Linked DNA regions of Homo sapiens. The protein of the gene in region 1 interacts with the protein of each later gene in a biochemical or structural test. Each region holds a gene or a part of one and is shown on either strand. Other genes may lie near its edges.

Region 1 (6,681 bases):
TGTGGACGCAGCCACAAATGGGCCAGGTGCGGAGGGACCCCAGTCCACAGCGGCCAGGGGGTCCTGGGGAGCAGCTTTAAAAGTGGGACCAGCAGGACAGTCAAGGCTGGTGGCCTCAGGGACTTTGGACTTGGCCAGCCTGGTGACACCGGAGCAGCTCTGGAGCTGTGGCTTGTCCCCACCACACCAGGCACGGCCCTCCCCTCCCCACACAGGCAGCCGGAGACACCGGCCCTGCAGGGGGGGTCGCTGCCCTCCCCACGCTCCTGCGCCCAGCGCTCTGCAGTGGGCCCTCGACGGCCTCCACGGCCGCGTCCCAAAACCGCCCTCCCCACGCCCCTGCGCCCAGCGCTCTGCAGTGGGCCCTCGACGGCCTCCACGGCCGCGTCCCAAAACCGCCCTCCCCACGCCCCTGCGCCCAGCGCTCTGCAGTAGGCCCTCGACAGCCTCCACAACTGCGTACCAAGCACAGTGACCATCCACTTTTGCCCCCCAGCCAGACCTCAAACACCCAGAAGTGAGAAGAGCTTTCAGAGTGGTTTTATCATTAAATTAATATCTAATCACATAATTCAAAGATATAAAAATTGGAATGTAGAAGGTGGGGCAAGCCCCTCCCTCAGGACTGGAGGCGGCAGCAGGGACAGAGCCGCACTGAAGCGGGTGAGCGTGCGAGAAACATACAGCCGAGCAGGCTGCCCCGAACACTCAGTCCAGGGTGGAAGCATCGCCCCGGCACCCCCCAACCCCCGAGCCCACTGCGCAGCCCACAGGAAGAGTGCAGGCTTTTCACATTTCAGAGGGTGGGGTGGGGTGGGGTGGGGCGGGGTGGGCCCCTGGCTTTGGGCTGCCCTCCAGCAGCCCCTGAAGGACACAGGCGGTGATGGTGGGAGAAAGGCCCCCTCTCCCAGGGAGGCCTCCTTGTCCTGAGCTTGGGCTGAGGTCTCTGTTCCAGTAACAGATGCTGGTTTTGTTTTGTTTTTTTTTTTAAGACAGGGTCTCGCTCTGTCACCCAGGCTGGAGTGCAGTGGTACCATCAGAGCTCACTGCAGCCTGCGCCTCCTGGAGTCAAGCGATTCTCCTGCCTCAGCCTCCCAAGTAGCTGGGATTACAGGCGCCCGCCACCACGCCCAGCTAATTTTGTATTTTTAGTGGAGACGGGGTTTCACCATGTTGGCCAGGATGGTCTCGAACTCCTGACCTCAGGTGATCTGCCCGCCTCGGCTTCCCAAAGTGCTGGATTATGGGCGTGAGCCACCACGCCCGGCAGGATGCTGGCTTTTAGTTCATTTAAATAGAAAATAAACCTGAACTCCACAGACACCATCCAGAGTGATTACAGGTGGCGTCCAAAGGTCAAAGGGCAGCCTCCACAGGGTTTCCTTCCTGGTTCTGAGACTTCCCAGGGACAGCAGAACTTCCTTGCACTGGTCCCAAGGAAGCCCCTCTTGGCCACCCTGAGAGGTGTTCCTGTCCCCAGATGCCCAGGAGGAGCAAGAGTGTGGGGACCGGCCCTTGCCGTTCCTCCTCCAAGTCCACCCACTTCCTGCCCCAGGGAGATCCTGAGGCCAGGAGGCAGGCTGGCCCAGGCAGGCTGATGGCGGAGGGTGGTGGGGAGGGTGGGGGGGCCCTGGACTTTCCCTCCCAGTCCTGGCACCTTGCAGGTGGAGAGGGCTCTTCAGGAAGGCATAGTTGGCCTCCTGCAGACGCGCACCTGGCCGGCAGGCACGAGGGTCTGCTGAGCCTCGCAGAAGTCCAGGAGGCTACGCCAGAGGGGGCAGCAGCGCAGAAGGAGGTGGTCTCCTGTGAGGGTGGGAGTCAGATGGGAGTCAGTCAGGGTCAGGTGGGAGGAGTCAGGGTCAGGTGGGAGGAGTCAGGGTCAGGTGGGAGTCAGTCAGGGTCAGGTGGGAGGAGTCAGGGTCAGGTGGGAGGAGTCAGGGTCAGATGGGAGTCAGTCAGAGTCAGGTGGGAGGAGTCAGGGTCAGGTGGGAGGAGTCAGGGTCAGGTGGGAGGAGTCAGGGTCAGGTGGGAGGAGTCAGGGTCAGATGGGAGTCAGTCAGAGTCAGGTGGGAGGAGTCAGGGTCAGGTGGGAGGAGTCAGGGTCAGGTCGGAGTCAGGGTCAGGTGGGAGGAGTCAGGGTCAGGTGGGAGTCAGTCAGGGTCAGGTGGGAGGAGTCAGGGTCAGGTGGGAGGAGTCAGGGTCAGATGGGAGTCAGTCAGAGTCAGGTGGGAGGAGTCAGGGTCAGGTGGGAGGAGTCAGGGTCAGGTCGGAGTCAGGGTCAGGCAGGAGTCGGCAGCTCCCTAGCCCAGCCCTGGCCTCACCTGTGTTCCCACCCTGGAAGAGCCCAGCCCCGCCCTCACCGATCAGGCAGAGCCCCTCCTGGGCCCGCGTGACAGCCACATTCACTTGGTTGGGGTCCACAACGAAGCCCAGAAACTTCTTGAGCCAGCTCTTGGTGGGCCGCTGGTCCAGGTCGCTCTTGGCACAGGTGCGGACGGTGCTCACCAGCACATAGCGCCACTCGCTCCCTGCGGGATGGGAGGTGAGGCCCTGCTGCCGCTGCGCCCACCCTCCCGGCCCCACCCACGAGCCCCCAGCCTCACCCTGGCTCTTGGTGATGGAGGACACGGCCACCCCGGCGATGCCCTCTCGCCGAAGGGCCTTGCTGATCTCAGAGGCCTGCGCGTTGTAGGGCGTGAGGACGGCGATGTCCTGGGGCTCTACGGTCCTCCCCAGGGTCAGCTGCTTGGTGATACGGACCTGAGGAGCCGAGGGGGCAGGTGGAGCGGACCCTGGTGTCTCTCCTGCCCTCCTCCAGGAAGCCCTCCCTGACTCACAAGCACCAGACACTCACCACCTCAGCCACCTCCTCCAGAAAGCCCTCCCTGACTCACAGGCACCAGACACTCACCACCTCAGCCACCTCCTCCAGGTTGGCCTTGGAGTTCTCATTCCCTTCGTCCGTGGACACCAGCAGGCTCCGCTCGTGGCCCTGCACGTGGCCAAAGATGACAGGGCAGCTCTCCTTGCCAGCGTGGCCCAGGACACTGGGCGGCCTCCTCAGGCCCTGCCACGTCTTCAGCTTGCTCTTGTAGAACGCCACAGAGGGGAAGGCACAGATGCCCTCATGCTGCAGGCAAGGATGTGCGCTGGTCAGAGGCTGCCACGCGGGGTTGTGGCCCCCCAGGGGCTGCAGGTGGGCTGGGGGCTGAGTGGGGCGGGCTCACCATGCGGTACTGAGTGTCCAGCATATGTGCGTCCTCGTGGTACCGCTCGAACAGAGACCGGTCCAGACCCAGGTTTTGCAGCCGCTCATTCTTGACCACAGGCCGCAGCTGCTTGTGGTCTCCGAGAAGAACCACCTGGAGGAATAGGCAGGCCTGGCCCTGACACCCCTAGACCCAGAGGGACCCCAGCCCCACACGACACCCGCGTCTGCACACACAGGGCACCCCAGGTGGGAGACTGTGCCAGGGACGCCTGCTCATGCTGCCCACACCCCCCGCCGACCAACCTTCTCGGCCTGTGGGAACTGCACCAGGGGGATGAGGGTTTCAGGTTCCGTGGCCATGCCTGCCTCGTCAACAAGGATCTGCCTCACGTCCAGGATTTTGAGGCTGGCAGAGGCTGCACAGGAGCAGGTGCAGAGGATGACCTCATGCCGGTCCAGCTCGAACTTCCGAGCCTCCCACAAGACCTTCTTGTACCTGCCGGGGACACTGCTTGTCACCCCAGGGCCCCCATGCTGCAGGCAGCTCCACCCCCTGGCCCCTGCCACTTACCAGACCAGGTCCTCCCTGGAGAAGAGCTCCCCTCTCTGCAGCCGGGTGTCAAAGGCCTTGATTTCCGACGAGTAAGGGTTGGGGGCCTGCCGGATCCGGTGGTGCAGGGTGATGCTCCTGGGGGACAGGACACAGTGAGCCCTGTCCACGCAGGGCCATCACGGGGGCAGAGCTCAGTGAGACCCACCTACACAGGACTGTCTGGACAGCTCGGCCCCACTCCGCCCAAGCCCCAAAGACAGCAGGCACACCTGAGGCTCTGGTTCGGCCTCCCCTCCCGGGGGCTCTTCCTGAGCAGCTTCCTGCTGCCCACACGCGGCACTGGGAACTCGCTGGCCTCAGCCTGCTCACTGTACACACGGAGGGGCTTCAGCTCCATCCTTCTCAGGAGCAGTCCTGAGGGTAGTTGGGGGACGTGAGTCCTGCCCCGCGTGCCAGCTCCCCAAAGGCCCCCACCGCCGACCCCGGCGCACCTGCCAGGACATCCACCGACTTGTTGGAGGGGCCGCAGTACAAGATGCAGGGACCCCCCAGCCGCTTCTCCCCACGGGGGGGGCCTCCGGGCTGCACCTGCTCCTGGTTTGATTTATGAAACCAGAATACGATGTGGAGGCCCACGATCGTCTTCCCTGTACCTGCAGCCAGAGAATAGGAGATTGTAGCCCACCCTGTGGGTCCCTGTGGCCCAAGGCAGCCTGCGGCTCCCCCGGCATGGGCCCTACCTGGTGGGCCCTGAATGACCGTGAAAGGCTTCTCCAGAGCCTCCCTGACCGCCACGTTCTGGCTGGGGTTCAGCTTGTGGCGGCCTCCGGGGATGTTGTAGGTCTGCCGCTCCAGGAACCTGCTGGGGATCACTGAGAGGGGGCAGCCTCCCTGAGCACTCATGCAGGGTGGGGCTGGGGGCCAGAGGGGAAGCTGGAGGGGTGGGGCAGACCTACCTCTGCAGAGGGGCTGCGGGACAGGCCGGCCCAGTGCGATGCTGGTGACCAGCGGGGACGCCTCCTCTAGTCCACGCACGGCTTCCTCCTTGCGGCTGGGGGTGAAGGCAGACACTGGAAAACCAACAGGACTCCCAGGAAAGGGGCTGCTGCCCCACGAGCTCCCCCCTCCTGCAAGTGAGGGGCCCGGGGCGGTCCCCCAGCCCAGCCTCTGCTGGTGGAAGCCACTCACAGATCAGGAAGCTGCTTGGGCAGCAGCTCAACGGTGAACAGGGTGCCCGGCCTCAGCACCTCTTCCGGAACCTTCTCCATGCCCATGTGGTGGACGAAGAGGTGCACCCGTCTGGGAGCCTCCTGCCGGTCTGCCCGGCGCTCCTGGTCCCAGTCCTGCGTCTGCCCGTGGGCCACCCAGGTATACGTGCCGGGGTCAACATTCAGGCCAGGGCCGAGGCTGCTGGGCCCAGGGCGTGGGCTGGCCGTGGGAGCCGGCAGCCCCTCGAGCCGGATGCAGAGGTAGCAGCAGCTGAAGTTGATGTCGGCACAGTTCTCCTCGAGGAAGGCGGCCTCCAGGCGGAAGGCGCCCTGCAGCTGCCCCTGCGGCGTCCGTGACGCCTCCCAGGAGACACTCAGGTGCTGAAGTGTGACGGAGTCATTCTCGGCAACCGCGCCGGTGGCCGACTCCAGGGCGCAGAATGGTTCCCACACGCAGGCGTACTCATCCACGTCGCGGTACCGGTCCCTCGGGGCCCGGTACACACGGCCTGAGAAGCAGTCTCCGGGCCGCTCCACGTGCTCCAGGCAGAGGCTGAAGCCCGGTGCCACCGTCCAGAGCTGAGGGCTCGGTACCAGGAAGCCGTGCTGCAGGCTGGTGCCGAGCTGCACCTGCAGGGTGTCCCCACTGCCCAGCTCCCGGGCCACCTCCAGGAAATGGCCACAGTGGCTCCGCTGCACCTGCACCAGCTCCCGCCGCTGGGACGCCTCGCCCTTCTCCTGGATGAGAGCAGCCGCCTCCGGCCAGCGCTGCAGCTCCACCAGCTCCAGCAGCTGCTTCCACAGGGCCGTCTCCACGGCCAGGGTGTGTGGGTCCGGCACAGTGCCAGGCAGTGGCAGGGGCGGGCTGGATCCCTGCGCTGAGTAGACACGGCGCCGCCACAGGAGCCGCAGGCCCGGCCGGCCTGCCAGGGCGTGGGGGTGCTCGGCCAGCTGCAGGGAGCCGTAGGGGACGGGGCAGGGGTCAGGCAGCGTCTCCCGGTTGCTGGGGAAGAGCAGCCGGAAGCAGCGGGAGCCCGCCTCCACGTCCACCACGAAGCCCAGCTTGTCCAGAGGCTGGGCCTTGAGCTGCACGGCCAGGTGCAGGCTGCGCGCCCGCCGCTGATAGCTCTGGGCAAGTGCGTGCTGGAGGCTGAAGGCCTGGCAGAGCCCATCGATGTCCCTGGCAGAGTAGGCAGAGCCCCCATGGCCCAGCGCCAGCAGGATCTGCCGCTGCAACACCACGTCCAGGTACCTGCGGATGGGCGAGGTGGCCCACGTGTACCAGTCCACCTGCAGCGAGTAGTGGCCGCCCTGCTGCTGGTGGCCCCGGGCGCAGCGGCCGAACGCCGAGCGCTCCAGGGCCTTGCGGAGGTCGCGGCCTGCAGGAGCCAGGAATGGGTGCATGTCGTCCGTGGTGACCAAGTCCACCATCTGTTCGTAGTCCTGGGTGCGGGCAGCAAACTGGACCTGCTTCCAGAGGGAGGCCAGGAGGTGCAGCCGCGTGTCGGGGGGACTGCCCCCGCCGCCGTGCAGGTGGTGGCCGAGGTGCAGTGACAGGGGCACCCGGTCCCCATGCTTCTCACACAGGGCCTTGAGCTGCTGGCTGCGGGGTGCTGGCTGCCACCGCAGAGGCGTGACCGTCCGCGTGCACTCGCTGCCCACCAGGAACTCAGCCACGAGCCTATTAAACTGAATCATGTACTCCTTCA
Region 2 (7,027 bases), on another chromosome or scaffold:
CAGCCTCGACCTCCTGGGTTCAAGCAATCCTCCCACCTCAGCCTGCAGAGTAGCTGGGACTACTGATGTGTGCCACCCCGATGAACTAATTTTTAAATTTTGTGTACAGACAGGGTCTTGCTATGTTGCCTAGGCTGGTCTCGAACTCCTGGGCTCAAGTGATCCTCCCACCTCGGCCTCCCAAAGTGCTGGGATTCCATGTGTGAGCCACTGTGCCTAGCCTGATTACAAAAACCAAAACGGACTAAATTTGTAATTTTTAAAAAAGGATGTCCTAACCCTAACTTTCACTTTTTTCTAGTGGAAGTCTCACACTGTGTCCTTCCCACTCTCGCATTTTCATAATGCTGGTCATGGGACCCTTATCAATCCTAATCATTCTTAAAATAATAATGACCTCAGAAGAGCCAAATTTTCTAAAGATGGGGGAGAGGCATCGACGATACCTCCAGGTGCCCAGCGACTCCCTGGAGGCGGTGGTCCTGGCAGTTCCAGTCCAGATCTAAAAATTCTCAACAGGACAATTTATCTACCAGGTGGACAGAGAGAGAAAGTGTTTCCAGGTCCATATATTCTTGACAAACTACCATAATCAACGCTGCCTTCCCAGCTGGACTGAGGTTGGTAAGTTGGTTTTGAAGGCTAAAACAAAAATTTTAGATGTTGAAAAAACTACCTTACATACAAAGGAGACTTAACAACCTAAACCATTGTAAAAAATAACCAACTCTTGTGAAATCTGCCATTTGAAGTAAAACTGCCATTTGAAGAAGACTCTACCCCCTCTCTCGATCCGCAGGGTGACTGGCTCCCACCCAGCCCAGGCTATGAAGACACATGTGCCTCGTCTGCGCTCCAGAGAGCATCTACTGTCACCAAGAGTTAAAACAATAAAACATCATATCTTTAAAAGCAACATAACAAAAGATACGGGAGCTGCCAAATGGGGCCCGGAGGAACACTGACAAGTAAGGTGTCAGTCTGTCCCTAAGAACACCACCATTCCCACAGACAGCTGGACTGGGTGGGTTCAGGTTGACTGGACGGAGCTGAGTGGAGCAGGAAGCTGGCGGGCTTCGGGAGCTTGTCTCGTCCCGCTTACCACGGGTGCTAGCTTATGACAGTCCAGAGCGGGGGTCTTGAGACTCTGTTTTCTGGGCTCTTCTACGCAAACCTGGAAATGGGCCTTTCCACATATTAGTTACAACCACGAAAACAGTGAGCCAAAAACAAAACAACAGCTGCATTTTGATAGCTTATCTAACAGATTTTTTTTTTGTTTGTTTGTTTTTAAGACAGAGTCTCGTTCTGTCACCAGGCTGGAGTGCAGTGGTGCAGTCTTAGCTCACTGCAACCTCCAACTCCCTGGTTCAAGCAATTCTCCTGCCTCAGCTTCCCGAGTAGCTGGGATTACAGGCATGTGCCACCACACCCGGCTAATTTTTGTATTTTTAGTAGAGACAGGGTTTCACCATGTTGGCCAGGATGGTCTCGATCTGCTGACCTTGTGATCCACCCGCCTCGGCCTCCCAAAGTGCTGGGATTACAAGTATGAGCGACTGTGCCTGGCCCAAACAGTTCTTTAAAATTCTCCATCCTATGATTAAAAAGCAGCATGTTGTCTTTCTTTAGATTCAGGAAACAGAAGTGAAGTCTTTGAAATAAATATTTTGCTGCTTTTTACATACTTCACCTTTGGATACATCTAGACTTATAGGATTATAAACATTGTTAAAAAGTGCTGATTAGTTTTCAGAATTATAAAGGAGCACAATAGTCAAAAGCGGGGTGAATGGGAAGACAGGCCACGAATTTTGAGGTTACCAGTTAATTAAATGGTAAATCACGAATGTGATCTAAAGCAATGTGCATTGATTAACATCGGGTGAGTTAAAATCAGACCATTGAGCATAATTCGCCGTAATCTTCCCAGTCCTGAGATTAGCCACCTACCCCCAGCATTTGAGTTCTATGCTCTTAGAAGTACTGGTTAAAACAAAGATATGGAATAATATGCCGGTTACCTACAGCTCAGACTGTCCAAGCTCTAAGGTTAAAGTGGTGGATATTTGTGCAAAATCGTGCTGCTCCCCCGTCTCCTTTGTAGTGCTGTCAGCTTCAGAACTCCTGGAAAAGGTGTGGCTGATCTGAAGGAACTCAGTACATGTCCCTGTAGATCTCCTGCAGTAGCGGGTGCAGCGCAGCATCCGACTCCGTCTTCTTGATGATCTGCACCAGCTGCGCATGCTCCGTCACCAGCTGCCGGAGGTCTGCCATTTTTTGAAGAAGTTTTGGGAAGAGAAAGATATCGTCCGGGTGGTTGCTCTGCAGGTGGAGTCTGAGCACATGTACAATACCCTCCTGCATTTTTTCAATGTGTCCTACGTTTAGAAGGCCAGGACGATCTAGTCTCGAAAGAAGAGAGAGAGGTTTGAGTGTGATAATCACCCAAGAACTGCTTATCAGTTTCAGGAACCAAACATGCCTATTTTATGTGGCCTTTCTTAGAAAAAAACTGAGCTGCCTTTAGATATTGTCAACTTGACTGGAAGATAGACATAGGTTTTTCCAAAGTCAATAGGTGAAGTAGGGACAGACAGGACCAGTACTCTTTCCTAAATATTCATACTACTAGGCGGCAATAGTGCCCTAAGTACACCTTATGGTGCGGCCTTTTCACTTGTGATTTACCTGATGACCACCTGTCAGGGAGAAAAATTAGAGCTAGTAGGAGGAACAGTACATTCTGGAGATCACAACCACCAGTTTTGCATAATATGGGAAATGAAGCTTTTGAATCCAAACTAGATATCAAGCTTCAAGTGTTCCACCATATTTAAGGAGTGATTGTGTTAGAACTAGGTTTTGTAGGCCAGGCACGGTGGCTCACGCCTGTAATCCCAGATACTCGGGAGGCTGAGGTGGGAGAATCGCTTGAACCTGGGAGACGGAGATTGCAGTGAGCCAAGATCAGGAGACCCAGAGTGGGGAGGAGGGTGGGGCAGGTCTGAGACTTGGTGCAGGAAGAGTCAACATTCACACCAGATGACCTGCCTGGGGTAGCTGGCACTAGACATCCTGGGACAGTCTCAAAGCATGAGACCTGATTCTTGGTCCAGAAAATACTGCCCTGAGCCATGTTCAGCAGGCGGTGCTCCCTTACAGACCCAGTCATTACTATGATTCTTAACAGGGTTGCTAGTGATGAGGATTTAAACATCTTCATTGTTTTTGGTTGTAAATGTAATTATTAAGTTTTTATTTCTAAAATTCTTGTTTTTGTATTGTTTTAGTGATGGGGTCTTGCTCTGTTGCTTAGGCTGGACTGGAACTCCTAGGCTCAAGCAATCCTCCTGCCTCGGCCTCCAGAGTGGCTGGGGCTATAACTATTAAGTCTCTAAAGAGAGGAATTATTGCCGGGTGCAGTGGCTCATGCCTGTAATCCCAGCACTTTGGGAGGCCGAGGTGGGTGGGTCACCCGGGGTCAGGAGTTTGAGACCAGCCTGGCCAATATGGTGAAACCCCATCTTTACTAAAAATACAAAAATTAGCCAGGTGTGCTGGCATGTTCCTGTAATCTCAGCTACTCAGGAGGCTGAGGCAGGCGAATCACTTGAACCCAGGAGGCGGAAGTTGCAGTGACCTGAGATCGTGCCACTGCACTCCAGCCAGGGTGACAGACGGAGACTCTGTCTCAAAAAAAAAAAAAAGGAGGAATCTTTTGAAAAATAGAAATCCCCCCTCATAATTTTAATCCCACCATAATAGGTTTAACATATATCTCACTGGACATTTTTCTATATACATAGGATTGATATAGGATTATAATTTCCTTTATAAAACTGTGATCATGCTACATATAAATAGTTCTGCAACTGCATTTTACCCACAATGCTACATCCTGACCATACTAAAGGACAAATTATGCATAACTGCTTTGTCTTTGTACACTTTATGCCAGAGCGCAAGGACTTCCTTCATCTGACTTGTGCCCAGCCACACAGTAACGGGCACGGCTGGTAGGGCTGAGTCAGCTCCATGCTGACAGTGAGTCAATCCCCCAGGCGCAGTATGGCTGCAGGCAGTGTGGGAGACCCCATCTGTCTCCACCAACCCTGGGTAAGGTCAGCCGAGTTTGCAGTAGGTGGATGACCTTCCTAGACCTGAGATGGGGCTATTTAAAGGAACGTGACACCGAGCCAAAAATGTGGAGGCTGCAGAGCCAGCTTCCACAGAGAGGACCAGATCGGCCTTCCCTGGGATCTGCTTCCTCGGGCAAAGCAAACCTTGCAGTCACTGCCACTTGGCTGCTGACTGATATTATATTTTGCATTAGGAAATATACTTTTCATCAACATAACCAACTGTGACAGCAACTATACTGACATCTGTATAGCACTTCATACAATATTGTCTATAATATGAATACAACATCATTATATAATATATACAGGAATATCATAATATATAAATTATATCTGTTTATAATATTAGATATAATATAAACGAAATGTGTGTGTGTGTGTGTGTGTATAATTTTTTTTTTTTTTTTTTTTGAGACAGGGTCATTCTTCGTCGCCCAGGCTGGAGTGTGGTGGCGTGACCTTGGCTCACTGCAACCTTTGTCTCCTGGGCTTAAGTGATCCTCCCACCTCAGCCTCTCAAGTAGCTGGGACTACAGGTACATGCCACCATACTTGACTAATTTTTTCTATTTTTTTTTTTGTAGAGACGGGGTCTTGCCATGTTGCCCAGGCTGGTCTCAACCTCCTGGGCTCAAGTGATCCACCCACCTCAGCCTCCCAAAGGGCTGGGATTACAGGCCCATGTCCGACCTCTTTTTCTCTATATATATATTTGTGCAAAATATATAATTTTTTTTTAAAGAAATAGGTCTTGTTCTGTTGCCCAGGCTAGAGTGCAGTGGTGCATTCATAACTCATTGCAACCTGAACTCCTGGGCTCAAGAGATCCTTTTGCCTCAGTCTACTGAGTAAGTAGCTGGGACTAAAGGTGTGCACCCCCACACCTGGCTAATATTATGATTAAAATGTCATACATTTACATAATATTAAATATGTATTTATAGATAATAACAATATATACTATAATATTATACAATATTGTTATAATTCCCACTGAATTCTCAGCAGTGACTGGGGGTCAGACGTCTTCCCACCATGTGAGTGTCCCCTCCACTGGAACAGCTCAGGCTGGTACTGGATTTCCCATTGTCAAATTTTTCAAGACAGGAGCCTGTCAGTGACATGATACCAGCAGATTAAATCAACCACTCACCTCCACAGCAAATGATAGCAGCCACAAAAAGGGAGATATCACTGTCATCCAGTTCCAGTGCATTGAACTTCATGGCAAAATCAAACTTGGGTTCCATGATATCACAGAACGGTTTCCTTAGGCTTTTTAGGAATTCACGAGTTATAAACCCATTTCCATACGCTACCAGCATCCCGTCTTTGTTCATCACAGAAGACAGCATGGCGAATATGGCCTCATAAACTCCGTATTTTAGCAATGTCACTTGATCGTTCAGGTCCAAGTTTGCGAAGCCTGGGATGGCCTTGGCGAATTCCGTGAGCTCCGTGACGGTCTCCACTGACGTGCACTGGCAGCAGTGAAAGATGCGGACCTCCGCCTCCTTGTTCTGGATGCCATTGGCCACCAGCTTGGCCACCAGCGTCTTCTCAGCCATACACAGTGTCTCCATATCATGTATGACAAAAGGCTACAAAGGAGGACACCAAGGTAAGTCAGGTGATGTGGGATGCGCTATGCTCCCAGCTATCAGCTCACTAATGAGCAGCTCCTGCGTCCAAATCACCAAGCTCAGTGCCTCAGAGGACTCAAGATACCCGCGGAACATAGTCCTTACTCAACTTCAAAATCGGTTGGGGAAAATAAGACATTAATAGAGAACAAACAGTATAAATCAGTAAAATAATAATAGTCATCGCCTGACATTGGGTGGATTTCATCGCTAAGAAACTGAAGTACTGGGCTGGGCATGGTGGCTCACGCCTGTAATCCCAGAACTTTGGGAGGCTGAGGTGGGTGGTTTACCTGAGGTCAAGAGTTCGAGACCAGCCTGGCCAGCATGGTGAAACCCCGTCTCTACTAAAAATACAAAAAAATTAGCTGGGTGTGGTGGCGGGCGCCTGTAGTCCCAGCTACTCGGGAGGCTGAGGCAGGAGAATGGCGTGAACCCAGGAGGCAGAGCTTGCAGTGAGCCGACATTGCGCCACTGCACTCCAGCCTGGGTGACAGAGCGAGACTCCGTCTCAAAAAAAAAAAAAAAATTAGCCAGGCATAGTGTGTGCCTGTAACCCCAGCTACTCGGGAGGCTGAGGCAGGAGAATCGCTTGAACCTGGGAGGTGGACGTTGCAGTGAGCCAAGATCGTGCCACTGCACTCCAGTCTCCAGTCTGGGCGACAGAGCGAGAGTAAGACTCCGTCTCAAAAAAAAAAGAAACAAGAAACTGAAGTACTGATTTTGTCAAAACAAAACTAACGAGGACATTAGCAAAGCACCTTTAATATTCTTAAATATTCTCTGAACTAATGACTATTGCAAGAGGCTTAATTACGATCATTCTTAATTTTACCAGTATATGCACTTTAGGGGTGAACACCATTATTTAACGCTGCTCAATGAATACATTTGGCATGTAAATACATACAACTCAGAAAGGTGGCATCTATGTAGAAATCGGCAAACAAGCGTTGTGAAACTCTTTAGGGATAAAGTGGAAAAGCCTCGGAATGCCCTTGTTTCTCTCAGTGCAGGAAACTGAAACCTTCACTCGGTGCTCCATATTCTGGAGCAAGTGCCAACTCCCCACAGCCGTGCCTTGTGTGCTCCCATGCCATCTGCATGTAAACCCAGTGGCCTGCCATTTCCTGAAGATCTCGTGGTGGAAGAGGTGGCTGGCCATATTATTTGAAGCCAACATGCTCAGAAGGGATTACATGTGTGGGAGAGCCGGGGAAAATGAGCACAAACACTGCT

Evidence for each region. Proteins that work in one complex are often made in the same cells at the same time.
Region 2: the proteins of HELZ2 (region 1) and PPARA form a complex in vitro, tested with the Homo sapiens proteins (one study listed by BioGRID).

What each region holds. Positions count from the first base shown.
Region 1 is NC_000020.11:63,557,568-63,564,248, forward strand, and holds the end of HELZ2 (3'-5' exoribonuclease HELZ2), read right to left. Parts: coding exon 4,953-6,681; intron 4,816-4,952; coding exon 4,721-4,815; coding exon of another isoform or gene 4,637-4,720; coding exon 4,505-4,636; intron 4,418-4,504; coding exon 4,256-4,417; intron 4,179-4,255; coding exon 4,034-4,178; intron 3,900-4,033; coding exon 3,783-3,899; intron 3,708-3,782; coding exon 3,515-3,707; intron 3,363-3,514; coding exon 3,228-3,362; intron 3,131-3,227; coding exon 2,912-3,130; intron 2,761-2,911; coding exon 2,604-2,760; intron 2,529-2,603; coding exon 2,361-2,528; intron 1,804-2,360; coding exon 1,679-1,803; 3' UTR 519-1,678; downstream 1-518. UniProt on the Homo sapiens protein: Can degrade highly structured RNAs through its concerted ATP-dependent RNA helicase and 3' to 5' exoribonuclease activities. Shows a strong preference for pyrimidine over purine residues for its nuclease activity.
Region 2 is NC_000022.11:46,230,511-46,237,537, reverse strand, and holds part of PPARA (peroxisome proliferator-activated receptor alpha), read right to left. Parts: intron 5,747-7,027; coding exon 5,299-5,746; intron 2,406-5,298; coding exon 2,158-2,405; 3' UTR 1-2,157. UniProt on the Homo sapiens protein: Ligand-activated transcription factor. Key regulator of lipid metabolism. Activated by the endogenous ligand 1-palmitoyl-2-oleoyl-sn-glycerol-3-phosphocholine (16:0/18:1-GPC). Activated by oleylethanolamide, a naturally occurring lipid that regulates satiety.